Regions from separate parts of the Homo sapiens genome. Here all the other regions are reported to be linked to region 4. The links are microRNA targets in miRTarBase. Many come from high-throughput screens and were not tested one by one. Region 4 holds a microRNA gene; each other region holds the end of a gene's coding sequence.

The links. Region 4 holds the annotated microRNA hsa-miR-4284 (GGGCUCACAUCACCCCAU, at 2,019-2,036, shown strand). A microRNA usually pairs through its seed, bases 2 to 8, with sites in the 3' UTR of a target mRNA and lowers its output. Matches are read on the target gene's strand: a 7mer-m8 pairs with bases 2 to 8, a 7mer-A1 pairs with bases 2 to 7 and ends in A, and an 8mer does both.
Region 1: the mRNA of DENND5B is a reported target of hsa-miR-4284. Seed matches in the 3' UTR shown: 7mer-m8 at 3,929-3,935 and 7mer-m8 at 4,201-4,207.
Region 2: miRTarBase lists NXPE2 as a target of hsa-miR-4284. The part of its 3' UTR that is shown has no 7-base or 8-base seed match.
Region 3: the mRNA of CPT1A is a reported target of hsa-miR-4284. Seed matches in the 3' UTR shown: 7mer-A1 at 3,094-3,100 and 7mer-m8 at 2,729-2,735.
Region 5: miRTarBase lists YIPF5 as a target of hsa-miR-4284. Seed matches in the 3' UTR shown: 7mer-m8 at 5,100-5,106.

The regions. Positions count from the first base shown.
Region 1 is chr12:31,382,637-31,388,770 of GRCh38, reverse strand. It overlaps DENND5B (DENN domain containing 5B), which reads left to right. Exons shown (of 21, transcript NM_144973.4): 21 at 985-6,134. The coding sequence ends at 1,168. Among named protein-coding and RNA genes, the nearest start is that of LINC02387, 16 kb to the right of the region's middle.
Region 2 is chr11:114,705,511-114,711,644 of GRCh38, reverse strand. NXPE2 (neurexophilin and PC-esterase domain family member 2) reads right to left here. Exons shown (of 6, transcript NM_182495.6): 5 at 5,649-5,864; 6 at 4,576-5,250. The coding sequence ends at 4,715. Among named protein-coding and RNA genes, the nearest start is that of NXPE2, 30 kb to the right of the region's middle.
Region 3 is chr11:68,752,751-68,758,884 of GRCh38, forward strand. CPT1A (carnitine palmitoyltransferase 1A) reads right to left here. Exons shown (of 19, transcript NM_001876.4): 19 at 2,133-4,980. The coding sequence ends at 4,894. Among named protein-coding and RNA genes, the nearest start is that of TESMIN, 4.3 kb to the left of the region's middle.
Region 4 is chr7:73,709,309-73,715,226 of GRCh38, forward strand. MIR4284 (microRNA 4284) reads left to right here and starts at 2,009; the gene lies at 2,009-2,089. All of the region lies in intron 1 of STX1A (syntaxin 1A), which reads right to left.
Region 5 is chr5:144,154,679-144,160,659 of GRCh38, forward strand. It overlaps YIPF5 (Yip1 domain family member 5), which reads right to left. Exons shown (of 6, transcript NM_030799.9): 6 at 3,484-5,881. The coding sequence ends at 5,719. Among named protein-coding and RNA genes, the nearest start is that of YIPF5, 13 kb to the right of the region's middle.

The DNA.
Region 1 (6,134 bases), not on the chromosome of region 4:
TCTCTTTAAGACTATTTCCTACCCCTTTATTTTTTGAAAGTGGCACATAGGAGCGATACAATCCATTACTTTTAAAACAGATCTCAGAATTGTAAGAAATGAAACATACAGACCTTTAGATTTCTTTTTTTAAGTTACCCATGTAGTATTTGTTTTTTCCTGAACCTTAAGAGCCCCAACTTGAGACTGAAGATGGCCTGATTGGGGATGCTCAATAAGGATGTCTTAGGAACTTAGCAATGGGTTACTAATGTCAGGTTTGATCAGGAAACATTGAAGATGTGAGGTTTTATCTTCCTGAAACAGCTGGTTTACAGAACTAAGTTCTGTATTTCTTCTTCATAAAAGGAGCCCAGTTTTAGCTGTGCTTTTAAAGTTTCTTTTGAGCATGATCTTTATCTCCTTTTATCTCTATACTCTTCTGATTTATTAGACCATTGCAAACTCTCATCTGGTTTATAAAATCTACTTAATGTTTTTCTGCTTTGATTTTGTTCCTCACCCTGTTATGTTATATAAGTTAAAAAAAAAAAAAAAAAAAAAAGCAAGTCCCTACAGTTTAGTGTAGTCTTTCTTCCAAAAGGTCAGTATACTGTGGCATGCCTTGCCACAGAGTAACACTCCTATTAAAAAAAAAGACATAGAAAATGACATTCTGCCTCTTTCTAAAGGTGGTAAAATCAGAATAGAGAATGTCTTTAATGTGCATAGACTTTCTAATGTACTTTAAACTCTTAAAGTACATTAAATTGGGTTTAAAATAATGGGTTTTCCCTTTAGCTTTCTTTACACTGTCTCATCACTGTCTTTTTACCAGAAAATATTCAACTTCTTGGCTTTGATTTCCTCTCTCCTGACCTCTTAGCTTGGATACATTTTGTACCATCAAGTCCCACACCTTCCCATTCATACAGACTCCACTGTGTGCCTTGTTCTGCAGCGAGGCCAGCAATGCTCAGGAATTGTTTCTGTTTGGGTCTGTAGGGATCGCCTGCTCCCACAGTGGATTCCATTGTTAGCTGAGTGTCCTGCCATCACTCGAATGTATGAAGAGAGCGCTCTCCTGCGAGACCGCATGACTGTCAACTCCCTTATCCGAATTCTGCAGACCATTCAGGACTTCACCATAGTCCTAGAAGGATCACTCATCAAAGGAGTGGATGTGTAACCCAACTGGCTAGAAACTCTCAGTCCAAACCTTGCTCCTTCCCCAACTAGGGGACCGATTTGGACTTGTCTGACAGTAGTGAGTCACTGCAGGGGCAGCCAAACATATGCCCCATTTGGAACAATCCTCACTCTACAGACAAGGCAAAATGTTGTATTGTAGTTCATTTGAACCTGGAATTTAGTATAAAATAGAGTATTTTCATGTGTTAGATGTGTGTAAATATGCTATCTTCTTTAAGAAATTATATTACTCTAATAAGATGCTTTTCTTAGATTGAATATTCCTGTGACTTAAAATAAGTAGCTTAAAAATGTTGGGGGTTGGGGGGAAGAGTGGTGCTAGCCAGGAAGAAGCCAGTAAACATGTAAATATAGTGCAACCCAGTCGGGCTTTTTTTTTTCTCCAGGTATCACAAAGAAACCCAGAATGCATTGTTATGTAGTAGCCATCCATCTTGGAGTCTGATCCTTTGTATTGTGGATGCACACAGCTTTACCTACTGTACTGGTAGTCTTCACTTCTATCTTTTAAGTTACAAACTGTTTTATATATTTGAATCGCTAGTCACTTTTCCAGTCTTTTGGAAAAAAATTTCAGTCCGCACAAGATGATATAATTGGAGTATTTTAAACACTAGACCCCAGGAGCTTGGCTGAACTGGAAAGAGAACATACAAAGCTCTGAGAAATGTGTTCAATTGTGGGATTATAACTTCTTTACACTTCGGAAAGATTAGCCTAGACTAACTTCATTCTTGGCATTTTTATTCTTGTTATTTGAGGTACTTTGGGAAGATGTGAATTTCAGTGTTAGATTCATAGTGATAAGAACTGCAAACAGCAATTTGATTCTGTACTTTTAATTTGGCCATCTAAACTGTGCAGTGGTCTACCTCTTAAGGATAACCATGAGCCCTGTCTTTGTTAGGGTCTAATCACCCACCTCTCCAGGGCCCATCCCCCCTCGGGAAATGGAAGGAATGTCTAAGGAGGAGGAGGGCTGTGTGTGGCTTGGAATGTTTTTGTGAAAGCATTTGTTGACCATGATAATGCAAATAACAGAAGGAGAGAGAGAATGAACCCTTTCTGGGTGTTTCAGGGCAAGCTTTACGTTCCTTTGTAGGAAGGGGAGTAATAATGTAAAACAACTGACCCAGAGAAGCTAAAAGCCACTGGCAGCACAGGCTGACAAAATGGAAGCAAAGCAAGAGGTGGCAACAATTTTGAAAGACCAAAAGTTGTGAGTAACTTTCCAGTTTGATAGTTTATAAAGAAGTTAAGTAAATGTAGTATTGGCTAGTTACTGTAAGTCCTCATCTTCTGGTAGGTCCTGTAACTCTAATTAGGCATTTGTACATTTTTAGCAGCAAAATTGCCTCAGCAGAGCTCCCAGTTTTATTCCCAGTTGTGGCTGAAAAGCAAAGCCATGGCATCAGTATCCTTGTGCAATCGGAGGTTGCTGGGCTTTCACCACCTGTGTTGTTAACCTTATTTCCTGGAGGAAGAAACAGATGAAACAAGTGCCTAACTCCCTTTATCAAACACAGCCAAGGACAGCCTCTTTTAACATGTGACTTCATACTTGAGGAAAAGGAGAGTTGACAGCTGTATTTAAAAACCCATGGAGCCGGGTGCGGTGGCTCACGCCTATGATCCCAGCACTTTGGGAGGCCGAGGCAGGCGGATCACAAGGTCAGGAGATTGAGACCCTCCTGGCTAACACCGTGAAACCCCGTCTCTACTAAAAATACAAAAAATTAGCCGGGCGTGGTGGCGGGTGCCTGTACAGGAGGCTGAGGCAGGAGAATGGCGTGAACCCGCGAGGCGGAGCTTGCAGTAAGCTGAGATCGCGCCACTGCCCTCCAGCCTGGGCAACAGAGCAAGACTCCATCTCAAAAAATAAATAGATAAAAATAAAAACCCATGGAAATGGTTTAAGAAAATGGTTCTGGGTACACCAGAAATTTGTTTGCCTGAAGCTAAAGTGTGTCTACAATGGTACAGCTCTTCCAGGGACATGGGAAGTTTATCGTGGGAGATATCCAGAACCTGTTTTACACTGGGCTCCTACTGTGTTTGGTGATCAGAAACTATAGAGGGGTCCAACCCAGGATTTCATGTTTGTATCTTCATAAGGCCATGCTCCTGACAGGTCTAGGCAACCTGGGGGATGACTTAGGTTAATGTGCTAGGATTGACACACCTCATCCAGCCTTCTTACTTTGTGGATGGGAACACTTAAGGAATAGAGAGATTAAATCTTACACTTACCCCACAGCTGGTTACTGACAACACAAGCTCTAGAATTCATGTTTGTTTGTTTGTTTTATTTCACCAGGCTGCATGAGACTGACCTTCCGGCATTCTTACTAATAGTCTTTCTATTATACTATTGGATCTTTATTCATCCACCTATACAAGTAGGAAATAAGGATGAATATTCATTTAGAAGAATTAATATTCATATTAACACATTGCTCTCAGATTATTGGGAATTAACATCTTGTAAAAACTGGGAGCAGGCCAGGTACGGTGGCTAACGCCTGTAATCCTGACACTTTGGGAGTCTGAGGCGGGTGGTTCATCTGAGGTCAGTCGGGAGTTCAAGACCAGACTGGCCAACATGGTGAAACCCCGTCTCTACTAAAAAAAAAAAATAGACAAAAATTAGCGGGGGGGTGGTGGCAGGGCCTGTAATTCCAGCTACTCAGGAGGCTGAAGCAGGAGAATCGTTTAAACACAGGAGGTGGAGGTTGCAGTGAGCCGAGATTGTGCCACTGCACTCCAACCTGGGTGACAAGAGCGAGACTCCGTCTCAAAAAAAAAAAAAGAAAAAAACTGCAGCCAAAGTTGGATTTGCGGCCTATGAATAAAACCATTACTTTAAAAAGTAATACCCCCAAAAAAGTTACACCTGAAGTTTCATCTTCATGCCTTTGTGTAATATTACTATAATGGTGAAATGATGATTTAAAAAAAACACATCAGAACTGACACATCCTCTTGGATGATGGGTCCTTCAGTCACCTTGTGAGCCCATGTACTTATTCCGTTGATACAGCCTGTGCTATAAACATGTGGGGCCCTCCTTGTGTGAGCTGCTTGAATGGCCAGTACCCCCATTCTTTTGAATATTCCCAATGGCAGTCAATCTTGGCCTTTAAGAATAAATTTAAATATTTGGAAATAGTCCTTAGGATCCAAGTTTGATCAATGAAAAGGATGCTTAAGCTGAGTTTGGGGTCACATAAGAAGTGCAGTTATAAAGAAATAAGACATGTTGGGCATGGCAGTACACACCTGTAGTCCCAGCTGCTTGGGAAGCCAAGGCAGGAGGATCACTTCAACCCAGGAGTTTGAGTCCAGCCTGGGTAACATAGGGAAACCCCATCTCAAAAAAACAAAACAAAGGACTTAGTTTTTATGTGGCTCATAAGTGTCTCTAAGTTATACCAAAAGTTTGAGCACAACAGTAGTAGCAGAATGCTTAGAATAAATGCTTGACTTTTAAGCTGACTTTTGGAAGGACCATACCCACATAGAGGCATCTTTTCTGCTGTGGTAATTTTTTAAATTAATACATTGCTTTAGGATTACATCTCAAAGTAAATAAAAAAATCAATATTTAATTTGTTTTTTTCCTGCAAATAAATTAAATGCTGGGACCATAATGATTATTTTTGCATAGTAATAGCTGGTGAAGAAGTTGTTTTAAAATTAAATTGCCAAAAGTATTACCTCTTGAAAAATTTATTTTCCCAAAGTTTTTCATATGTCATGAAACCCCTAATCTTGACCTTTATGACACAGTGGCATTACACTGATGTTGGAAGCATGTGTGAGATCTGTGCCCTGGTCGGGAGTCATATGCCTTAAAAATGACTGCGAGTCAGTGTGAAGTAGTATAAAGTGGAGTCCTACGTGGGAAAAAGCAGGCTACTGAGGACAAAAACCTCCCAACCCTCCCCACCTTGTTTTCCACTGGGAATGAGAATTTGATATGAGAAACTTCAACCTTGCAGAAGTGTGGATTTCCCTCTGAAATTTAAATGTTTCACACATTTTTGTACCTTTTGTAACCTTGTGGTATTTACTTTCACATGGCTTTTTAAAAAATTATTTTAATGAACTTCTATCACACTATATGAATGATATGGGGGAAATACTGAACTGCTCATATTTCCTTTTTTGGCAATAAAGCACTGTTATATGTAAATGTAAGTGAAAAAGAGGTTCAAGACTATACAACAGCTTATGTGTAGTATATGTTGACATCCCTAAGGTATTTTGAAACATGAGGTGACAGACAAGGACCTCAAATTTCCAGGGAAATATTTATTTCACAACATTAGGAGTGTAGCTCTTCATAATGAAATATCTTCTTTCTGCTAAAGATTACAATTTTTCATTTAGGGAACTGTGAATATTTTCTGTGAGGTTTACAGAAACTAGTGTATCCTTTTCACTATGTTGAAAAGACAATCTGAACTTTAGCTATTTATATTTCAGTATTAACACACCTTCACTGATTGAGAGTCTTGAGCCCTTCTCTACTTTTATAAAGTGAATCCTATTTCCAAGTCATCCATGTCTTTTGAAGTCTGTTTCTTATATAAGTATTTATTACTTTACTGTTTAGCATAAATAGGAGACAGAAAAGGATAATAAACTACTAGGTCCTTTATTCCTATTAAAATAAATTTATAAATCCCTTGAATCAACTGAATTCTAAGCTTTTTGAAGAGGTTGCTGATGTAGTGTGATCAAAAGAATCTAAGGAGAACCTCCTCTCCAAAATCTGATTGGAGCTGTTCACCCTCTCAAGGACAAGATAAAGATTGACTTCAGAGATATATCACATCAAGCTAGAGGAAAAAAAAAAAACCTCAAATAAAATTTTTCCTCATTCGAAGGGATCCAGGGTATCCTTGGGTTATGTAGGAGGGAATCATATTTGTTCTAAT
Region 2 (6,134 bases), not on the chromosome of region 4:
TCCACAAGCATGGGATATCTTTCCATTTATTTGTATTCTATTTCTTTCAGCAATGTTTTATACTTTTTGGTCTTTCATCTCCTTAATTAAGTATATTGCTAGCTATTTTATCCTTTTTGGTGCTGTAAGAAATGGGATTGTTTTCTTAATTTTCTTTTTGAATTGGTCATTGGTATAGAAATGCAACTGATTTTTGAGTGTTGGTTTTGTGTGCTGAAACTTTGCTGAATCCATTTCCTAGTTCTAATAGTTTCTGTGCAGAATCTTTAAGATTTTCTAAATATAAGATCATGTCATCTGTGAACAGAGAGAATTTACTTCTGCTTTTCCAATTGTGTGTCTTTTCTTTTTTTTGTCATATGCTATATATAACAAAATTTTTTTGTTTTGTTTTGTCTTAATTGCTCTGGCTGGAAATTTCAGTACTATGTTGAATAGTAGTGGTAAGGATGGGCATCTTTGCTTTGTTCCTGATCATAGAGGAAAAACAGTAGTTCCTAGTTGCATATGGTATTAACTGTGGGCTTTTCGTGTATGGCTTTTATCGTGTTGAGATAGTTTCCCTCTATTCATAGTTTATTGATTGTTTTTATCATGAAAGGATGTTAAATTTTGTCAAATGCTTTTTCTGCATCAATTGAGATGATCATGTAGTTTTTGTTCCTTATTTTGTTAATGTGGCACATTACATTGACTGATTTTCATATGTTGAGCCATCCTTGTATTCCAGGTATAATTGCCATTTGGTCATGGTATATGATGCTTTTAATGAGCTATTGAATTTGGTTTACTAGTATTCCTTCTTTTTAGGGTTTTTGCATCTATGCTTATCAGGGATATCAGCCTGTAGTTTTCTTTTCTTGTCTTTGTCTTGGTGTCAGGGTAATACTTGCCTCATAGAATGAGTTTGGGGCATTCCTTCCTCTTATTCTTTGGGAGAGTTTGAGGATTGGTGTTAATTCTTCTTTAAATGTTTAGTAGAATTCTCCACTGAAGCCATCTGGGCCTAGGCTTTTTATTGTTGTCGTTATTACTGAAAGGTTTTTGATTACTGTTTCAATGTCCTCTCAGTTATAGGTCTGTTCAAATTTCTTATTTCTTTATGATTCAGTCTTCGTAGGTTGTATGTTTCTATGAATTTATCAGTTTCTTCTAGGTTATACAATTTGTTAGCGTACAATTGTTCATAGTAGTCTCTCAAAATCATTTTTATTTCTGTGACATCCATTTTAATGTCTCATTGCCCATTTATAATTTTAGCTATTTGAGTCTTCTCTATTTTTCTTAGTCTAGCTATGAATTTGTTAAATTTTTGATCTTTTTGAAAAACCAACTCTTAGTTTTTTTGATCTTTTCTATGGTTTATGTTTACTTTATTTCCTTTATCTCTGTTCTAATCTTTATTATTCCCTTCCTTCTGCTGACTTTGGACTTGGTTTGTTCTTCTTTTTCTAGTTCCTTGAAGGGCAGAGTTAGGCTGTTGATTTGCAAACATTTTTCTTTTTTCATGTAAGCATTTATTGCTATGAACTTCCCTGTTATTGCCACTTTTACTGCATCCCATAAGTTTTAGTGTGTTGTATTTTTGTTTTCACTTGTCTCCAGGTATTTCCTAAATCCCTCGTGTGTTCTTCTTTGACCCATAGGCTGTTTAATAGTGCAATGTTTAATTTCTAAATATTTATGGATTTTCCTATTTTCTTTCGGCTATCGATTTCTTTTTTTTTTTCTTTTTTGTTTTTTGAGACAGAGTCTCGCTCTGTCACCCAGGCTGGAATGAAATGGCATGATCTTGGCTCACTGCAACCTCCGCCTCCCGGGTTCAAGCGATTCTCCTGCCTCAGCCTCCCGAGTAGCTGGGACTACAGACATGTGCCCCCATGCCCAGCTATTTTGTATGATTAGTAGAGACAGGGTTTCACCATGTTGGCCAAGCTGGTCTCAAACTCCTGACCTCATGATCCGCCCGCCTTGGCTCCCAAAGTGCTGGAATTATAGGCACTAGCCACCACACCCAGCATCTGATATTGATTTCTAGTTTTGTTTTATTCCATTGTGCATAAATGGGTTTTTGAAAGAGGTTTGATAATAGCAATAGAGAACATTTCTATGATTTCAAATGGCTTGCTCAAGTCTTGTATATTAGCAATATAGTCATTATCTGCAATAACCTGAAGCTATCACCTTAAGCCAAAACATTATGAAATATTTAGATACCAGAATTTCTTTAAAAAATAAACAAGAAGTAAATGGCTTAAAAGTCAGAGACTTGACACTTACCAACATTTGGTGATTTTTTTTGTTTTTTACTCACCACGAAAAATGATAACGCATTATGGAATTTGCTTTTAAAAATGCAACCAATTACAATGACAAAACATTAAAAAATACTTTCTAGAGAAGAATGCAAGCACATGTTGTGCTATCTGTATAGTACCACTAGCTCCATGTGGCTATTGAACACTTGAAATGTGAATAGTGCAACTGAGGAACTAATTTTTTACTTAATTTAATTTAAATTTAAATAGCCCTATGCAACTAATGGCTACTGTGTTGTACAGTGCAATTCTAGAACAAGAGAAATAATAGACCCTCTTTTATAGGGGCTAATGGATCACATTTAAATTAAAACATTCAATTTGTTGAGGTGAGAGATGAGGGAGAAGGCACATTGTAGAGTGAGTTGTAGAGTGATATAGACAAACTTCAGTGCATGTGAAGAGAAGGTAAGAAAACTAGAAACTATCATGTCAGAACCAGGTTGAAGGAATTTGAGATGGTCTTCATGGGAAAACGATAACTCATTTAAGCAATTAACATTGCAATGGTTGGAAGAATAATTAAATTTACTTTCAAAGTTTCCTAAAGGAGGAATTAGAACCAATAAGTAGCTTGATACAAGGAAGAAATTTCTAACGTGAGTTCCCTATTTAGAGAAGTCTGGTGCTAAAGTGTATGACCCAGACTTATGACCTAGGCTTTTCTTTTCTTTTCTTTTCTTTTCTTTTTTTTTTTGAGATGGAGTCTCGCTCTGTCACCCAGGCTGGAGTGTGGTGGTGCAATCTTGGCTCACTGCAACCTCCACCTCCTGACGACCCAAACTTTGTACTGATGTTACAGCATTATAACTTCACTTCCTCTAACTAAGAAACACAGTCCTAAGAGGGGAAGTATCCTTAATAACAATATTCCTACTCTTGAGACCTAGAGTATATTAATAGAAAGGGTGTATATCTTTCTAATGAGAGGAAGATTTAGAGACAAAATTTGTCATTTGAGGCCCTCTGGAGGGGATCCCAAATCATATTTTAGGATATCCAAGAATCAAGGTTTTGGGGTCTGTACGTTAACATAATACTAAGTTGTTTTCTCTCAATGAGCCTGTGGGTTTTGAAGTGTGATCCATGATTCTTACTGGAATCTAGAGAACAACTGGTTACTAAGTTCCAAATAATTTTCCTAAGCAAGAAGACTGCTATTATGATCCCACTAAGTTTTCCTGTATACATCACATTTTCTCTAAACTTGAATCATTTAATCTATGCATTTCTGGGCTGCACATGTCTTCAAATTATGGGTGATGATGATTTGCTATTCAATCATCATGCTCAGCACTGGAGACATGCCTTTAAATTTGGTTTTCTCTTCCTAGAAGCACTATTTACAGTAGCCAAAAGGGGAAACAACCCAAATGTCGATCAACAAATGAATGGATAAACAAAATGTAGTACATACTTACAACGGAATATTATTCAGTCTTAAAAATGAAGGAAAATTCTGACAAATGCTACAATATGGATGAACCTTAAAGACATATGCTAAGTGAAATACGCCAGACAGAAAAGGACAAATGCTGCATGTTCCCACTTATATGAGCTACCTAAAATAGTCAAATTCAGAAGGACAGAAAATACAATGGCGGTTGCCATGGGCCAAGGACAGGAGCGAATGGGGAGTTATTGTTTAATAGGTACCAAGTTTCTTTTTGGAATGTTAAAAATGTGCCAGAGATGGATCATGATGAGGGTTTCACAACATTGTAAATTACTTAATATCACTGAATTGTACGCTTAAAAATGGTTTATAGCCAGGTGTGGCGCTGCACACTGGTGATCCCAGCTACGTGGGAGGCTGAGTCAGGAGAATCGCTTGAACCCGGGAGGCAGAGGTTGCAATGAGCTGAGATCATGCCACTGCACTCCAGTCTTGGTGACAGAGTGAGACTGTCTCGAAAAATAAAATAAAATAATGCCGGGCATGGTGGTTCATGCCTGTAATCCCAGCACTTTGGGAGGCCGAGGTGGGCAGATCACCTAAGGTCAGGAGTTCGAGACCAGCCTGGCCAACCAGATAGTGAAACCCCATCTCTACTAAAAAATACAAAAATCAGCTTGGCATGGTGGTGGGCACCTGTAATCCCAGCTACTTGGGAGGCTGAGGCAGGAGAATCACTTGAACCTTGGAGGTGGAGGTTGCAGTAACCCAAGATCACATCACTGCACTCCAGTCTGGGCAACAGGAGCAAAACTCTATCTCAAAAATAAAATAAAATAATAAAATGGCTTAAATGGTAAATGTTATGTTACATATATTTAACTTTAATAGAACTTTTTCAAATTTAGTTTCCTCAAAACTTGGATTGCATTAAACTATCTTCGCTGTATATGTGAGATCATCTATAGAAAGTGGCTAGTGCTATTTTTGTATTTTTCCTCTAACAAATGTAGTTTAAGAACATGCCAATCTGATTTTGAATCACATAATCCGGTGGATGGGCATTGTTGGTGCAATATGCAATCGTCATGTCCCAGGCATCAATAATACCCACATTAAGATCCACAAAAATATCTCTTATGATAAGATTCTGAATATAGCCATGAAAGTCACTGAACATCTCTGCATTTTGTTCTATCTCTCTGGTGTTTTCAGTTTTAAGTATCACCTTGGTCTCCGGGCTTCGCAAGAATAGACGTTCAATGGCCTTTTGAATATTGATGGCCCTACGGATGAAAATGTTGATGGGAAAGGGTCTGAAGTGTTGGCCGAGGGTAATGACAATGGCTGTGTTTTTGTCTCCTGCTACCTGGTCAATTTCCCGTGGGATATAGTTTTCATCTTTCACTGAGAATAATTTTTTGGTAACAAATGGATGACCATGTTTTTTCCACTGAATCAAAATATGTCTTTCAACATCCAGAAGAACATGTGTTTTAAAGATCCCAGCTCCATGATGATCAAAATATTTTAGGGCTGATGAAAGACAAATCAATAAATATTTTAACAAAAGGAAAATGATATAACTTTAAACTGCACACAACATGTATAAAATTCTAACCAAGATCACTTCTAACTAAGCACTATTGCCTATGTAAGGTGGATAATTTTACCAGGTGCATTACAATCTTAACAAAATATTGAACTTGTTATGAGAATACATGAAGAGGAAGAAAAATATTAACATTTGTGAATGAAAAGATAAAATTTAACTTTTTATTAAAAGCCCAAAGCCAAAAGTTAGGCAAATTTAAAATAAAATAAAATAAAATAAAATAAAATAAATATTAGAAAAGAAAAGCAAATAATTCTAATTATTATTTCAAAACCCTCAAAAGTCAAATAGAATTTCAAAATATAAATTAAATACATACTTTTCACAGCTTTTTGTAAGTAGTAAATCCACTGATGCAGTGTTGAATCTCCCATGAGATAAATAAGTTTTCTTTCCAAGCAGTCATTTATATTTTTTGTTTCATTGAACTTGATCTGTTTACAAAATGCTGTAATCCACATTTTTTTCAAAGTATAACCACTGGGGAAAGGAGTCTTCATTCCAATCTGGCAGTTCTTTTTTATGTTCTCGCTCTCTGGCAATACAAATTTCCAGATTAAGTAATTTTTATTACCACAAATTATTTTGGAAAAATGTTTCTCATTTTTGCCTTCCTTTTCCTCTTTTTCCTCCCCCTTTCTCTTCAGCTCTATTTTGCCTTCCTCTCTTCCACAAATATTTATTTAATAAGATCATGTTAAAAGGGTGAATTAAATAGCTTTTCTTGAATAGTTTTTCTTGGAGTGGGGATCTGTTGACTCTTGTGCATTTGCAATGTGTCCCTGGGCTCCACCTTGTCCCCAGA
Region 3 (6,134 bases), not on the chromosome of region 4:
GAGGGACTGGTGGGAGTGGGTGCTGGGGAGACAGCCTCAGGTACTGTCTACTCAGGTACTGTTTTGGTAAAAATAAAGAATGTAAAACATCAGCTTTCTAATCTCACTTTTAAAAATTAAATACTTTTCTAAATTTTTAAAGGGTAGTACCCAAGGCACAGCAACACCGTGTACTATTTAGTTGTACATTTAACATTCAAAAATCAAGAAAATTTTGCCTGGGGCTGGGCGTGGTGGCTCATGCCTGTAATCCCAGCACTCTGGGAGGCCAAGGTGGTCAGATCACTTAAAGTCAGGAGTTCAAGACCAGCCTGACTAACATGGTGAAACCCTGTCTCTACTAAAAATACAAAATTAGCTAGGCATGGTGGTGCACACCTGCAATCCCAGCTATTTGTGAGGCTGAGGCAGGAGAATTGCTTGAACCTGGGAGGCGGAGGTTGCAGTGAGCTGAGATTGCACCATTGTACTTTAGCCTGGGCAAAAAGATTGAAACTCCATCTCAAAAATCAAACAAACAAAAACAACAACAACAAAAAACACTCACAGAAGCAGAAAAAATAATAAAAATAATAAATCGAAGAGCCCAAGAATTATGCATAGCTTGAGTGGCCCAAGCGAGAGAGTAACCCACAAGGTTGCACCGTTCATTCGTTTACTAATCAGAATCAGACGTCTACTGAGTAGCATCATGCCAGGCATACACAGCCACCTGTGGGGGTCACCCACGGGTTGCAATCAAGCCTGGAGGCTCTGCACCTGCTGCTCCTAGATGCTTGCTGCCCTGCTGCACTGGCCGGGCTGGCTCCGTCGAGTCTCTCAGGTCTCAGCTCAACCCACTCTAAGTGGGTCAACCTCCCTGCCAGCTACCACCCCCTCCCAATGATCCTCTTAGTTGCCTCAGAACACTTAAAATCCTTCAACTGGTTGGCTTGTTCTCTTTTTCCTCTGTGATATGGTTTGGCTCTGTGTCCCCACCCAAATCTCATCTTGAATTGTAATCCCTCTGTGTCAAGGGAGGGGCCTGGTGGGAGGTGATTGGATCAAGGAGGCGGTTCCCCTACGCTGTTCTTGCAATAAGAAGTGAGTTCTCACAAGATCTGATGGCTTAAAAGTGTTCGGCAATTCCCCCTCACTCTCTCTCCTCTGCTGCCATGTAACAGGTTTCTTGCTTCCCCTTCACCTTCTGCCATGATTATAAGTTTCCTGAGGCCTCCCCAGCCATGCTGAACTGTGAGTCAATTGACTGTCTTTCCTTTATACTTACCCAGTCTCAAGAAGTTCTTTACAGCAATGTAAAAATGGACTAATGAGACAGCCAGAACCTGGTGGGGTCACTGCTGTCTCCCCAGTGCCTAGAACAGGCGCTGATATGGTTTGGATGTGTGTCCCCACCCAAATCTCAGGTTCAGTGGTAATCCCTAATGTTGGAGGTGGGGCCTGATGGGAAGTGACTGGATCATGGGCGTGCATTTCTCATGAACAGCACCATCCCTCTTGCTACTGTCCTCACCATAGAGTGCGTGAGTTCCTGTGAGATCTGGTTGTTCGCAAGTGTGTAAGAGAGCACCTCCTCTCTCTCTCTCAGATCTGGTTGTTTGCAAATGTGTAAGAGAGCACCTCCTCTCTTTCTCTCTCTGTCTCCTTTCACCATGTAGAATGCCTGCTCCCCCTTTGCCTTCCACCATGAGTAAAAAGCTGTTTGAGGCCTCCCCAGAAGCAGATGCCTCCATGCTTCCTGTATAGCCTGCAGAACTGAGAGCCAATTAAACCTCTTATAAATTACCCAGTCTCAGCTATTTCTTTACAGCAATGTGAGAATGGCCTAATACAGGTGCTCAAGAAAAACAGAAAAATGGAATTCATGCATTACTTTTAACATATTTATTGAGCATCTTTTATGTGTCAGGCACTGTTCTCAGCATTGAGGCAATGGAATGGATGAATAAATGCACAGCAAGTGAAAATCAACAGGCTTTTCTTTCCAGCCCAGCACATGAACTTGGTGATGTCCATGGTCTCCTCCAAGGCCTTGTTTCCATATGCTGAGACTTTCCACTTTGTCTCAAGTATCTGAACTTGGTCCTTGACTTATAATCCCCTTAATATAACAAAAGAGACAGAAACAAATCTTGTAGTAGACTGGGGTTAATGTTTTATTAATGATAACCTACATTCACACTGCATTTCTAAGATTTACATCCAAAGAGCATACTGTATTTACATGCACCGGTCAGCCCAAGATAACAAATTCAAACCATGGCTGCGTTAAGACAATGGTTTGTTCCAATTAAATTAAACAGATAATACTCTTATCACCCCCCTTGGACATGTACAATAAGACCCCTCTTTCTCCCCTCAAGGAATATAAAATTGCATTGATAACTGCACTGATGAGCAACAATTACATTTGAAACATTTAAAACCTGAGAGAGAAACCCAAATATGTTTAAGCACTCACGTCTACACTCAAAATGCCCTGTGAACTCTAGTGTAACACAGATTGCTCAGTGGTCAACAGTGCATGATCTAGCTGGCTCTGATAGGGACTGACGCCGGCTGCTGGCTTTTAACGGGAAGTGCTATTCTTGCCCAGGGCAGAGAGAGCTACATCCCCGCTGCCTGCTTGACGGACAGTCAGGGGCTTTTGTTGTTGGTTTGTTTTTGCTTTTTTTTTTAGACGGAGTCTCGCTCTGTCGCCCAGGCTGGAGTGCAGTGGAGCGATCTCGGCTCACTGCAAGCTCCGCCTCCCGGGTTCACGCCATTCTCCTGCCTCAGCCTCCTGAGTAGCTGGGACTACAGGCGCCCGCCACCACGCCCGGCTCATTTTTTGAATTTTTAGTAGAGACGGGGTTTCACCGTGTTAGCCAGGATGGTCTCCATCTCCTGACCTCGTGATCCGCCCGCCTTGGCCTCCCAAAGTGCTGGGATTACACGCATGAGCCACCGCGCCTGGACGCTTTTTTTTTTTTTTTTGTCTTTTGTTTTCATTTTTTCTTGCTTTCAGGAGAAAAAAAATCTTTGGCCCATAAAGGTGGGATTTTTACATCATGAAGTATACATACATAAAACATGCATGTGGGCCGCGCATGGTGGCTCATGCCTGTAATCCCAGCACTTTGGGAGGCTGAGGCAGGTGGATCACCTGAGGTCAGGAGTTCGAGACCAGCCTGACCAATATGATGAAACCCCGTCTCTACTAAAAATACAAAAATTAGCAGGGCATGGTGTTGGGCGTGTAATCCCAGCTACTTGGGAGGCTGAGACAGGAGAATCGCTTGAACCTGCAAGGCAGATGCTGCAGTGAGCCGAGATTGCACCACTGCACTCCAGCCTGGGCAACAAGAGTGAAACTCCATCTCAAAAAAAAAAAAAAAAAAAAAGGCACGTGTTCTCCGGCAAGCACCTTCCATCGACTCCAACAGTTCAGCCATCGCTGTTGTACTATCGGGGTGCAGCACTCTGAAGGAGTCAGGCCCAACTAGAACCAAGTGGTCAAAAAAATAAATACACAATTTAAAACAATGGACAGCTAAGCTTGTCATGACAGACAGTGGGAATTTCATTCCATGATGCTTCATTTTTGCATTAAATACTGAAGATGACTCAGTGCATAATTGCTTTGTGGTCCATGAGACGCTTTCGTGAAGGCACTCCTATCTGAAGGACAGGCTGGGTGAACACCTAGCACTGTCACTTGAGACATCTTGGCTGGTCACCAAGGTGAGCCGGCATACTGTCTCCATCACCCTCTGGTGAGTCTTTCCCCTCACCGGGTGGGAGGAGAAGGCCATCCCTTGGGGTCGTGGAGCCACTCTCTCCTCACCACGGTGGGCTGCCCTCCCCTTCCTCACTTGCTAGTCCCCGCTTGGTGGCCGATGCCCTGCCCTCCTTGCTGTCACTTTGGGAAAGAGATCCTCCTGAGGCACGTGTCATGTTTTATTCTTGAGTGAATTATCTGACCATCACGGCCCTTGCTCCCCTTTTATGACATGTGCCTGTTATTTCTTTTGTTGCTTATGATGACAAGAAGGCAGTCCCGGGAGGGGAGTCTGGCACAGCTGCCCTTGGGAAGGAACTGGTGTTTCTGAGGGGGAGGGGGCTGGTGGGGTGTAGCAAATGCTTATGTACGGTTATCCATACTCAGTCAATTGTGAAGGGAACAGTATACCCACAATTCCACCCAAAGACTCTACAAAATAAATCTTTCTCTCCATCTCCCTTACATTTAGGGCCTTTCATTTTTAAGGCACTGGGTTGTGAAGACTTGAAGACATACAAGGTCAGTAAAACTGAAGACCTTGCATCCTGCTTGCTTCAAATGTGGAGAGGCAAACACAGGCTACTGGACCAGACGGGAACGGTTACCCACGGTGACAAAAGCAGGTCTCCAAAGCACAGCATTTTGGTTAGTGCATTCCAGATGTGTTAGCTACAACTGGGGACACCAACTTGAATAACACATTTTTCTTTTAACAAAACAAAAGTTTACCCTGCTTGGATGATGCTAAATGCCCTTAAGCACTAGGCCTTCGGTTGCCACTGAGAAAGCACACCATTTCCATTCCACTGTGTGTGAAGCCACAACCCTACTAATTCCTTCATTAACTCAACAAGATTTGCATCCCTTAATAAATCCAAGCCGATGCGGAGACATCAGGGGAGACTTTATCAGATGTCCCCCAAGGGAGGGCAAGTCTGGAAGTAGTGGGGTTATGCTTCACAGGGGAGAGATACTGTTCTAGGAAAAAAAAACACCCACATTTTCTGGAAGGAAAACTGAGTTTTTTTAAGAGCAGTGTTTCATCCCGAGCTAAGGTCAGGATTAATGCCTATTTTTCATTTGGTTTGCATCAGAAGAGCTCGTTTTCCTTCCCAGCAGCTCCAGTGGAATTACTTTTTGGAATTAGAACTGAGACCAAACAAAGTGATGATGTCAGTCATTGCTTCTTTCAGGTGCCTTCCAAAGCGATGAGAATCCTTTCATGTAAAAACAAAAACCAAAAACCTATTAAAACGTGGCCATCCCCACATTTCAAGCTTTTTCATTTGCAATCTGACCCAATGTTTCATTGAAATTCCTTTCTGCCAGTTCTCTAAGATCTGACCAACGTCTTAAAGCTTAACTTAGACATTCCAGAGAAATGCTGAGGGTAAAGAGATGACAGCTGATGTGTTTGTGCGGGTGTGTTGTCGATCTAAGCCTTCCCCTAATGCCAATGCGTTTATCCCACGGAAAACACAATGACCATCCTGAGCATGGTGGCTCATGCCTGTAATCCCAGCACTTTGGAATCGCTTGAGCCCAGGAGTTCAAGACCAGCCTGGGAAACATGGTGAAACCACATTTCTACAAAAAATACAAAAATCAGCCAGGTGTGGTGGCACTCCCCTATAGTCCCAGCTACTCAGGAGGCTGAAGTAGGAGGATCCCCTGAGCCCAGGAGGCTGAAGCTGCAGTGAGCCGAGATCACACCACTGCACTCTAGCCTGGGTGGCAGAGTGAGACCCTGTCTAAAACAAACAAACAAACAAACAACAAAAGAAAACCGCAGTGAACAAATAAACCCCAACTTCCTCTGTTAACAGCGACAGTGGCATGGGTTGCCAGGCTATGTACGACAAGGAAAGCAGAATATAAATAAGGGCAATGTGCCATGCTAGGGAGGAGGTCCCTTGTTCCATCCACAGAGGAAGCCGGGGGTCCCCTGCTCTGTATGCAGATTTCTTAGTGTGTACCCATTATTTTTAGTTCATCTTCCAAGTGCTAAAGAGTCTGAAAGTTACAGCAGCACTCCAACGTTAAGCTTCAAAACCATTGCTGCCAACAGAGGTAAACATGTTAAACCAAATTAGATACATTTCCTTTTTTTTTTTTTTTTTTCTGAGACGGAGTCTCACTCCATCACCCAGGCTGGAGTGCAGTGGCATGATCCTGGCTCACTACAACCTCCACCTCCCGGGTTCAAGCGATTCTCCTACCTCAGCCTCCTGAGTAGCTGGGATTACAGGCGTGTGCCACCACACCAGCTAAGTTTTGTATTTTTAGTAGAGGCGGGGTTTCACCATGTTGGCCAGGATGGTTTCAAACTCCTCACCTCAAGTGATTGGCCAGCCTCAGCCTCCCAAAGTGC
Region 4 (5,918 bases):
CCGGCACAGAGAGAGGAACCTTGCCTGATACACTGGTGTCAAGGCCAAGTCTCAGCCTCTGGGCCAGGGACTTCCTCCCTCACCTATCTGCCTGCCCCCTCCCTGTGGCTGGGGAGGCAAGCGAGCCTGGGGCCGGCCGCTCTGTCTGGGCCCTCTGGGTCCCCTAGGCCCCTAGGACAGCTGCCTGGAAAGTGCATTCTCTACTCTCCTGGCCCTGTGGTTTACACACACACACACAAACACATACACACATCTGTAGAGTTGAGGTCTTGCTGTGTCACCCAGGCTGGAGTGCAGGGGTGCAATCACAGCTCACTGCAGCCTTAAACACCTGGGCTCAAGCGATCCTCCCAACTCAGCATCCCGAGTAGCTGGAATTATAGGTTTCCACAACCATGCCTGGCTCCAGTGGTTTTAATTCAGGTGGAGCCCAGAGGTCCCAAGCTCCCTTTCCAGAGTGGGCCCTATAAGGGGAGACCTGCCTACTGTGTCCCAGCCCTGGGCACCACTAAACCCCAGTCCCGAGGTGGCACGGATCAGATCTCTTAGGAATCTCCTGTGAGTCTTTTTTTAAAACAGTTTTTAAATTTAATTTTTATTTTTGTAGAGACGGGGGTCTCACTGTGTTACCCAGGCTGGTCTTGAACTCCTGGCCTCAAGCGATCCTCCTGCCTCAGCCTTCCAAAGCACTGGGATTGTAGGTGTGAGCCACTGCACTTGGCCTCCCTGTCGGTCTTGCCATTGGACCTCGGTCTGCCTCCTTCCAGTCCCCAGACCTGGGCCCAGCAGGCACAAGGGGACAGTCATGTTGCCACTTGGCTTGGGTCCTGCCTTAGGCCTCAGCCACAGTTACAAGCCCCACTCCACTGTCCCAGGACCAGCTGTACAAAAGCCACCCCCATCGTGGGGCAGGGGTAATCATACTTCTGACTTCCCAGCATGCTGCGCACAATTATTACTGTCTGCCTCATACCGCCAGTTGGCCAGGGTCAGCCCACGCTGCTGGCAAGGCCAGGTCTCTCTCTGCAGCCAAGGCAAGGATATCCGGGGTGGCCACCCTGGGGCAGGGACTGAGGTCTCTCAGCCTGGGGCTCAGGGCTTGTTCCCACCTCTTTTATTTTTATTTTTTTATTTTTTGAGAGAGTCTCGCACTGTCACCTAGGCTGGAGTGCAGTGGTGTGATCTTGGCTCACTGCAACCTCCACCTCCTGGGTTCAAGCAATTCTCCTGCCTCAGCCTCCCGAGTAGCTGGGATTACAGGTGCATGCCACCATGCCCAGCTAATTTTTGTATTTTTAGTAGAGACAGGTTTCACTATGTTGGCCAGGCCGGTCTCGAACTCCTGACCTCAGGTGATCCACCCGCCTCGGCCTCCCAAAGTACTGGGATTACAGGCGTGAACCACCACATCTGATCTTGTTCCCACCTCATTTCTGAGTGCCTCACGGGAGTGGCCACTGACTAGCTCAGCACTGACCCCACCTCGGTGCTCTCGCGTCAGGACGGAGGCAGGTGGAGGTTGAGGGGCTGAGAGAACTGATGGGACTCATCAGGCTGGGCCTTAACCCCTCTGGCTCTATTTACTCTTCTGTGAAATGGGGACAGTGACACCTGGCTGCATGGAGGGAGGGCTGAGAAAAAGTGGGGAAGCAGGGCAGGTATGTTTGTTTGATTGATGGATGGACTGATTGATTGATTGAGACAGGGTCTCGCTCTGTCACCCAGGCTGGAGTGCAGTGGCACAATCATAACTCCCTGTAGCCTCAACCTCCCGGGCTCAAGCCATCCTTTCACTTCAGCCTCCCAAGCAGCTGGGACTACAGATGCATCAGATGCATGCCACCACACCCAGCTACTTTTTGATTTTTTTTTTTTTTTTGTAGCGACAGGGTCAAACTATGTTGCCCAGTCTGGTCTCAAACTCTTGGGCTCAAGTGATCTTCCCACCTTGGCTTCCCAAAGTGCTGGGAGTATAGGTGTGAGCCGCCACCATGCCCGGCCTGAGCATGTTCTGTGAGGGGCTCACATCACCCCATCAAAGTGGGGACTCATGGGGAGAGGGGGTAGTTAGGAGCTTTGATAGAGGCGGCTCAGAGGGGCCTCCTCTCTTTAAGATATCGTACCACCTCCCCAGCAGCTAAAATAAATCCTCGTTCCCACTCCCCACCGAGTGCCTGGGGCTGTCACCAGGTGGTACCCCCTCCCCCACCAAGCTCCCTACAGACACAGAAAATCCAGGAGCCGTTTTCACGCTTTTAGACCGTGACAGGCCTAGGAGTTGAGTCAGAGGAGCCCTCCCTAGGGAAACTGAGGCAGAGCACTGCCAGGAGGAGCCCAGTTCCTCCTCCTGGGCAGGCTGCCAGGTTGGGAAGTGGCCCCAGGAGCTCCTGCCATTCAGTGTCCTGCCCTCTCTGCCCTGGTGCTCAGAGGATCAGGGTAGATGACAAAGGGTGGATGGAGAATTATCCAGCTCCTTTTCCGTGGCCAGAGACGAGCGTCACTGCCAGCCCCACCGAACCCCTGTCCTGCCCTCAGAGACCCCTGGCACCTGTCTGGTGCCTCTCTTGACCTCAGCTTGCCCATCTGTGTAATGAGGGCAGATCTTCTCCAGGCATCCGGCCAGCTCTGACCTGCTACCTTCCCAGAAGGCTGAAGGCTGGACCAGGAAGCTTCTCTAACAGAAGGGCTGGGAGGAGAGATGCCCGCATCCTCCTCTGGACCCTCCGTCTATGAGGGTAGGGCTGGGGAAAGGGAGATCAGGGCCAGGGTAGATGGGGGCACGCAGGTCAAGTCTACCCTGGAGGTGGCATTGAGATTGGCCCCAAAGCCAGTCGGGGGGCTGAGGGCCTGACCTCTGAGGCATGGTCAAACCAGCCACAGCTCCAAGCAAAACCTAGAGGGGATGGGCGAAGTGGGCCTTTCCTCCCCACGTCCTTCTACTTCTTCGTTCTTGGGAATTTTCACCCCCAGCTCTGCTCTTTATCCTGCTGCCCTCCCCTGGGATCAGACCCCACTCCCCCACACCTACAACTGGTTCCTGGCCCTACAATCCACCCTCTGCCCCCAACTTCCCCCAGGCACATCCCTTTGCCCGGGATGCTGATTCCATGAAGGTGACATTCCCTTCTTCCTCGATGCCACCTCCTTCCAGAAGCCTCCCTGCCCCCCCAAATCAGTATCTCGCACCTTGTTCTTCCACACGCCATTCACATTCCTATTGGAGCCATGGCTGAAAACTCTCAGGCCCTAAGGGACCTGAAAAGTCCCCCTGGCTTCAGCTGCCAGCCTCAGCTTGCAAACCTCCTGTGACAGTGAGCTCACTAGCTTCCCCAGACAGCTCTGCCCATCTCGGGCAGCCCCAACTGTTAGAGTCCTTCTCTTCCCTGTGGTTTGGTTCCAGGCCATAAAGAACCTGTGGGTGCCCTCTCCCTGGGGTACCCCTGCTATAGATTTGAAGGCGGCATCCACATCCTCCCTAGATTTTTCTTTTTAAGTATTCCTTCCCTTTCAGATCCTTCCCAGGGACCCCAAATTACAGCCCCTGCCCAAGAGTTGTTCCACTGTGCCTCTGTCTCCTGTCATACAGCACACAAACTGAATCTGCTGCTGACTGTGGTCTGGGCAATGCCAAAGATCTGGCCCATCCCCTCCCTCTTTCTATATGATCTACCTCTAGTAATACAGCCAGGAATCAGATAAGTGATCATGTAGCATTTCCTGTCAAGAAAAGCCCCAAGCCCTTCCCAACCACTGTCTGTGGAGTGGATTTGGGGTTCGAGTGAAGGACCTTCTTCCTGTTTCATTTCTTCATTTGTTCTGATGCTTATTTCAGTTTGTGGGATTCTGATGGCTCCTGGCTCTGTCGCCCCTGCACCCTCATCCACATCCAAGCTAGAGCCTGGTGGCAGCATTCTAGAGATGTCCTCCAGATTCACTCAGATAAGGAATCAGTTCTCATTGGACACGGAATAAACTGATAAGGACGCGGGATGGCAGAGCCCCACTGCCACCCTCACCTCCTCTGTTTCCCAGCCCAGACACACTCTTGACCAAAATGTAACTAGGTGATGTGGCTACCCTGGCATGCTGTCTTCCTGGTGTCTTGGGCTGGCCAGGGCGGGCACTGTATACATAAAGTGGCCAAGCATGATGGCTCACGCCGGTAATCTCAGCACTTTGGGAGGCCAAGGTGGGAGGATTACTTGAGTCCAGGAGTTTGAGACCAGCCAGGGCAACATAGCAAGACCCCATCTCTATCAAAAGCTACAAAAATTAGCTGGGCGTGGTGCCATGCATCTGTAATTGCAGCTACTCAGGAGGCTGAGGTGGGAGGATTGCTTGAGCCCTGGAGGTCGAGGCTGCAGTGAGCTATGATCGTGCCATTGCACTCCAGCTTAGGTGACAGAGCAAGATCCTGTCTCAAAAAAACAAAAGTGGACACACAGATTTCTGTGGAATAATTAGGGCCCAGCTCCCTTGGGGATCTACCAATGCTTTCTGAGTGGCATTCACAGCTCTGGAGAGGGGGCTGGATTGGAGTTGGGGACTTGGAACCCTTCGCTGTGCAGGTGGCAGCTGGAACTGTGGGGCACAAACTCAAAGGCCCAAGTGTCTTACGGACGGATGTGCCCAGATATCATACGGGCACCTTGCCTGCCTCCTGGCCAAAACCAGGCTCCACCTGTTTTGCCAGAGCCCCATCCTCTGAACTGCCTAGCGCAGAACCCCAAGCCAGAAACCTAGGACATCTGCCATCTTCCTCCTCTTCTCCCATCCAACCAACATCCAATTTGTCCTGGCACTTTTTTTTTTTTTTTTGAGGCAGAGTCTCGCTCTGTTGCCCAGGCTGGAGCGCAGTGGCGCAATCTCGGCTCACCACAACCTCCGCCTCCCAGGTTCAAGCGATTCTCCTGCCTCAGCCTCCCGAGTAGCTGGGATTACAGGCACCCGCACCACACCCGGCTAGTTTTTGTATTTTTAGTAGAGACGGGGTTTCACCATGTTGGCCAGGCTGGTCTTGAATTCCTGACCTCAGGTGATCCACCCGCCTCGGTCTCCCAAAGTGCTAGGATTACAGGCGTAAGCCACCGCGCCCAGCTCTTTTTTTTTTGAAACAGAATCTCGCTTTGTTGTCCAGACTGGAGTGCAGTGGCAAGATCATAGCTCACTGCAGCCTTGATCTCCCAGGCTCAAGCAATCCTCCAGCCTCAGCCTCCAGAGTAGCTGGGACTACAGGTGCCTGCCACCACACCTGGCTAATTTTAAATTTGTGTAGAGATGGTGGTCTCACTATGTTGCTCAGGCTGGTCTCAAACTCCTGAGCTCAAGCAGTCTTCCCGCCTCAGCCTCCCAAGTAGTTGGTACTGCAGGTGTGAGCCCCCAAGCCCAGCTAACATCCTGGTGTTTTTTTGTTCTGCATTCAGCAGTTCTCAAAGCTGGGCGAGCACCAGAATCCTTTGGGGGGGTTAAAAAAAAAAAACAAAAACGGCTTCCAGGGATCCACCCCAAAGAGACTGAATCAGAATTTATAGGGGTAGCCGGGTGCAGTGGCTCATGCCTTAATCCCAGCACTTCGGGAGGCCAAGGTGGGTGGATCACCTGAGGTTAGCAGTTCAAGAACAGCCTGGTCAACATGGCAAAACCCCATCTCTACTAAAAATACAAAAATTAGCCGGGTGTGATGGTGCATGCCTGTAATCCCAGCTACTCGGTAGGATGAGGCAGGAGAATCACTTGAACCTGGGAGGTGGAGGTTGCAGTGAGCCAAGATTATGCCACTGCACTCCAGCCTGGATGACAGAATGAGACTCCGTCTAAAAAAAAAAAAAAAATTGGCTGGGTGTGGTGGCTTACACCTGTAATCCCAGCACTTTGGGAGGCCGAGGCGGGCAGATCACGAGGTCAAGAGATCGAGGCCA
Region 5 (5,981 bases), not on the chromosome of region 4:
AAATCTCGATGTTCAGCATATATAATAATCCCCATAATGGAATGCTAAGTTTAAAAACAAGAGACTTTGAAAACATTATGTAAACTCAAAGGTGCCAGAAACAAAAGGCCACATAGTGCATGCTTCCATTTCTATGAGATGTCCAGAATAAGCAGATCCAGAGACAGAAAAAAGATTAGTAGTCGCCAGGGTATGAAGGGGAAAATTGAGAGATAAAGGGAATTTTTGCGGGCAGTGGGGGGTGATAGAAATATTCTGAAAATAGTGGTGGGTGATGATTGTACAACATTGTGAATATGCTAAAAAACATTGAATTGTACACTTTAAAATGGTTAAAATGGTAAATTTTGTTATATGTTATATATATTTTATTGAATTTCAATTCAATAAAAACAAACTTAAAAGGTAAGTGCATGTATGTATTAATGTGTACACAAGTCACTAGGAAGAATTGGGTACCTGTGTGTATAGTCTGATAAAATGTATGCTAATCTATTTAAAGGCAGTTATGTGGGGAATGAAATTTGGGGATAGAGGGGCAATTTCACTTGTTCAGTATTAATATTCTTCTGGGAAAAGGTACTATATATATTTTTGTCTTTATTAAAATCTATCCTAAAACCCTTCTCTTGAACTCTAGAAACATAGATGTTCTGGTGGTTGCTCTGCCTCCCATTCCCCTTTCCATGTTTTTTAAAAAGTTTATTAACATATAATTTACATACCACAAAATCCACCTATTTTAGTATACACTTAAAATTTAGTTAGTAAACATACAGTTGTGCAGCCATCACCACTCAAAAAGTTCCCTCCTGCCTCATTTGCCGTCAGTCTCCACTACCACCTCCTGGTAACTATTTATCTGCTTTGTCTTTATAGATTGGCCTTTTCTAGATATTCATATAAATGGAATCATATGATATGTGGCCTTTTGTATTTGGCTTTTTCTTTTACTTGGCATATTTCTGAGGGTCATCCATTTTGAAATAGATTATCAATAATCTGCTTTTTATTGCTGTGTGAAGGTATTATCAAGATGACAGTGTACCTAGAAAAGGAAATAAAGATTATACATTTAGAAAACTAAAAATTAAAACACAGAAAACAAAAAGGCTTTTAGTGCCATTCATTGCCTAAAGACTACCAAGTTCTCCAATATTATCAGACCATGAAACTGATAACTGAAAGCAAACGTGTCATTAAATTTTACAGACACTCCTTTGCGTTATATTCTAACTAGGAAAATAGAAAATAACTATTTTTTCTGTTTGTAGGAAAATAAAAGTCATCCAACTAGATTAAAAGTATAATTTACAAGCATGTTAAATGTTTCTGCTGAGTACTTATTTGTTTTCTCATTTTTTTCTTTATTCATGTGTGTGCCACAAGTGCTGATAAGCTATTGAAAACACCTTAATGCATAATTAATCACTCTGCAAGCAATCAGCAGATTTAGTGCTAGTTGCAGAAATAAACCAAATTCATACATGCAAGGTAAGCCTAATTAGTTAAGCTCACAAAAAAATGTAATATCCGATTTTTGGAACCTAATGTGCTCAAGAAAGTATTTGTGCTTTTAAATTAGAACAGCTCTCTATTTAATTAGTCCTCATTTGAGTATGTAATCATTTTAATTTATTTACACAAACACAGGACATTGTGCTCCATCAGCAGATAATGTTCTTCATTAACCAGAGTAGGAACTTTGTGCTCAAGGGCAGCAGAAATATTTCCACCTGTGATGCAAAATCAGAACTGCATACTATCAAACTGCATTCTTTGGTTTTGATGGTCACCATCCTAAGATACATATTTGTTAATAATAACATAAGTTTAAGTACTCTACCAATCCATAGAAATTGACAATTTAAATATTTAATGTTTCATTTTACCTATTGCCCAGTTACAAAATGGATATTTAATTATTAATGAACAAATTAACTTACTGAAATTCAAGTATTAGTAATGTACTACAATTCAAACTTCAATAATTTGGATGGTGGAGAAGCAGAGTTAATTTTTTAAAAAGTTAATTCTTTCTTCATTAGGGGTGCAAAGTAATGATAGCCTAGATTGTAGAGAGTGGGGAGGCTAGGTTTTATTCAGACTGTATAAAAACAAACACTGTATGCTTGGCAGGGTAATGACATCATTCTTATGTATTCATTAAAGCACATAAAGCAATTCTTCCTTAAGGCGTTTCCAACAACCTTGAAACCTTGTTACTGGCACACTGCTTCCGATAAATCCTAAATACACTCTAAAAAGATAAAGAGACACTCTCATTAACTCATCTGCAGTATGTTTTTGCTACTAAATAACAGTTGAAATTTGACATGTCACAAAATGAGTCAGTGGATAGCATGTGAGGGCAGCTTTAACATGAGGAATTGTTTGGGTAGGAGGCTTGCTCTAGGTAGTATTTTGAAGGAAGGCCCAGGGCTAGTCTTTGGTAAGTATGCTTCATTGTACAATCTGTACCATGAGAGCTGCTATATTGTTTTGAAAACTTTCCATACTACTTTATGAAAGGCTAAATACTTGCTATATACAACTTTTTTTTTGTTTTCTTCCCACAAAGAAAGAGAAACAACTTGTCTGAGTAACTACATCAGATCTGCTTTATATAACAGCATGGCAAATGTAGCCTTGATTTCCCATAACTCTTCATGATATAGAGCATCTCTACAGAATAATATTTTAACTTGTACAATTTCCCTTTACCCAAAGTTTAAAATTCTTCCATTTATGTGAAAGAAAACTAGTGTATAGTTCACATCAGAAAGGCTCCCTTTTTCTGTAGGTAGTAAGTACTGCAAGCATAATTGCATAATTTTAACTTTAGAGACAACTGACTTAGCTTTGGAGCATATTTGAGTTTAGCAATGCCTATTAAGGTTAAAAATACAAATTTGCAAAATACCAAATGTACAATGCTAAATTCTATCCCAAATCATGTCATTAGATACATTTTAAAAAACTCTCTTTGATTAGGTGGCCACTATCCAAGGATAGTATCTTAAGATTTCTAGAACTTTGCATAATCTGCCTAACTATAACTGGAAAAAGAATGTCTATTTCCATAAGCCTAGTTATACAGCTCTTGAAAATACCCATTGGTAAACACAGTATTATAGCAATGCTATAAAATATACATTTACTCCATATGTAAAGTCAACTACATGATCTTGGCATGTATACATGTATGAGTAACACACTAGTGTTAAGTCAATTTGCCACTCCACTCACAAGTACAGTATTTGGAGATAAGGCGTGTTTCAGTCTGTTACCCCCACGATGAGTTTCAGTTACTCAATGACAATCACTGGATGAGCTTTTAGCTATGGTGTCTCTAGTGTTTAAAGATACCTGCATGCTTTTAGTATAAAATGGGCCTAAAGCAAGGCAGGTAATCTACCTGGTACTTAACTGAAGAAACCAATCTATTCCAATGATAGACAAAAAAAAAGCGCCACATAGTACTTTTTGAGACACAGTACAACAGTCTTTAATGTATATATAAATATGCCTACATAACAGAGTTTGATAAGAGAAGTTTTGGCTATATACAACTCTGCATGTAATCAAACTCTAGAACATCAAATGCAACTCCACTGCATAGCTGTTTTGACAGAGCAACAGTTAAGCATAAAATAGCTTTGCACCTTATTATTTTGGAGCAAAATAAAAAATAACCACCACAAAAAAAATCTCTACAATAATTTAAACTAAAAATGTTGTTGAGGATAGGGTAAACAACAAAAAAGAAAATAATTTGATCCATATGTGATATTTGGCTGAAGATTAACAGTGTTAAGTCTAACCAACAGCGAGATAATTTTAATTTCCAAAGCATCTTCTACCGTTTATTAGCAATATTTGGATATTAAGGGAAGACATTTGCCTTAACAAAAACTATACTGAAAAAGACAAATGAATTGAAAAAGACAAAAATACTATCCAAGAATTACAATAAAAAATTTGGTTAAGTTGGAAAGCCTATCAAATTACCTTCCAAATTGCTTTTTTAAAGCAATTTGGTAAGTTTGAAAACCTAGCCCAAAACAAATTAATGACAAGTGGGTTTCTCCAGACGATTAATGAAGAAAAACATACTTATGTGAATCAATAAATATGTTATTTCTCTCAACCTCTTTTTATGCTTTGAAAACTTGTTCTAAAAAAGAACCATTGATACATCATTTTGACATTTCTATTTAGTCTGAAAATCTCTTTAAAAAAAAAAAAAAGGCAGTATTTTCCTCCCTGTACCATATCTTTCTCGTAACTATAACTGAGCTTTGTCCAGAATCAGAGACAGTTTTTCTAGAAAAAGCCAATGATCAGTATACAAGATACAGTATTTTCCTACAGATTCTCTCTGGCAAGAGAACATGACAATATAAATCAAATAAATTTAATACAATAAAATAATGTAACTCAAACTGCTCATTTAATCCCCTTTTTGTCTGATTCTATATTAGCTGATTTCTATTCTTAAAGCTTAAATTAGGGGTCAAAATCAGAGCCTAGTTAAAAAAGAGACAAAGAGAACAGTAGTTTAGTAAAAGTAAATTCAATAACACAGTTAAAATTAATTGGGAAAGTTTTAATAAGCATTCAAATGTACTTTACATTGATAATTGCAATATTGAATTTTGTAAAACTTTAAATATTTTCCTTAAAAAAGGTTAGTGATTTTTTTATTATTTTTGGGAAATGTGGCGATCCAACGATTATAGCATTAATGCAACCATTCCAGGTCCCTAAGGTTGAGTTAACATTAATATGTAAGTAAGTGTTCGCATTTCATGTCTACAATAAGGTAGATTGTGAACTTCCCGTATCTCTGAATTTTAGCAAAAATTCCATGAGATAATTTACAGTAATGTCAAATTTTTGGAGTGCAAACTCATACTCTACATTTGGATCACTTTTTTGCTTTGAGTTACCTGACTTGAGAATACAAGGCAATTTTTCTTTCCTAAATCCTTGGAAAAATATTTTTGCAGTAAGTCTTGTGTCTCCTTTTTTTTTTTTTTTTGAGACAGAGTCTCACCCTGTCACCCAGGCTGGATGGAGTGCAGTGGTGTGATCTCGGCTCACTGCAAGCTCCGCCTCCTGGGTTCACACTTCTCCTGCCTCAGCCTCCTGAGTAGCTGGGACTACAGGCGCCCGCCACCACGCCCAGCTAATTTTTTTTGTAGTTTTAGTAGAGTCGGGGTTTCACCGTGTTAACCAGGATGGTCTCGATCTCCTGCCCTTGTGATCCGCCCGCCTCGGCCTCCCAAAGTGCTGGGATTACAGGCGTGAGCTACCACGCCCGGCCGTCTTGTGTCTTCTTTACTGTGACTGGGTCGTTTTTAAGAAAGGTTATCAGCTTTGTGTTTGGTTTCCCACAGTTGATAAAAATCTATCAAAAACATTATAATTTGCAAGGAAAAAGGTTTTTCAATGGCTGCAGGAACCAGAAAGAAATAGCATTTCTTATCTGTATAAACACAAACATTTAAAGCTAGTCACACCGCAGGTAAATCCAATATAGTATGCAAAAGTTCTATAAAAATGAACAAGAGATACACGTTTACTTTCATTGCTCCAACAGTCAAATGTAAATCTGCATGAGAGTTGCGCTGCAGCAGTTTGCTGGTCCAATTTAAGAGTTCAAGGTCCTTTTTGTACATCTGGCCCACTGATGTCCACATCCCAGATAAATTTTCAAAAGACGGAAATCAGGGCAAAGACTCCATATAACAAAGCGCAAGGATATGCTACTAAAAGTTGCTGTCCTTCCATGGCTAATGCAGAAATAAATATTTTGGAAGCAGAAAAACTACACCATCCAATAATCCCAGCAGTGAGAATGATTCCTACCATTCCTCTGTAAACAACAAGGAAAAAGGGGGGAGAAGAAAAAAAAGCAGATGAGATTAGTTATGTAAGAATACTACAATAACCTATTCTAAAGCATTTTAAATTTA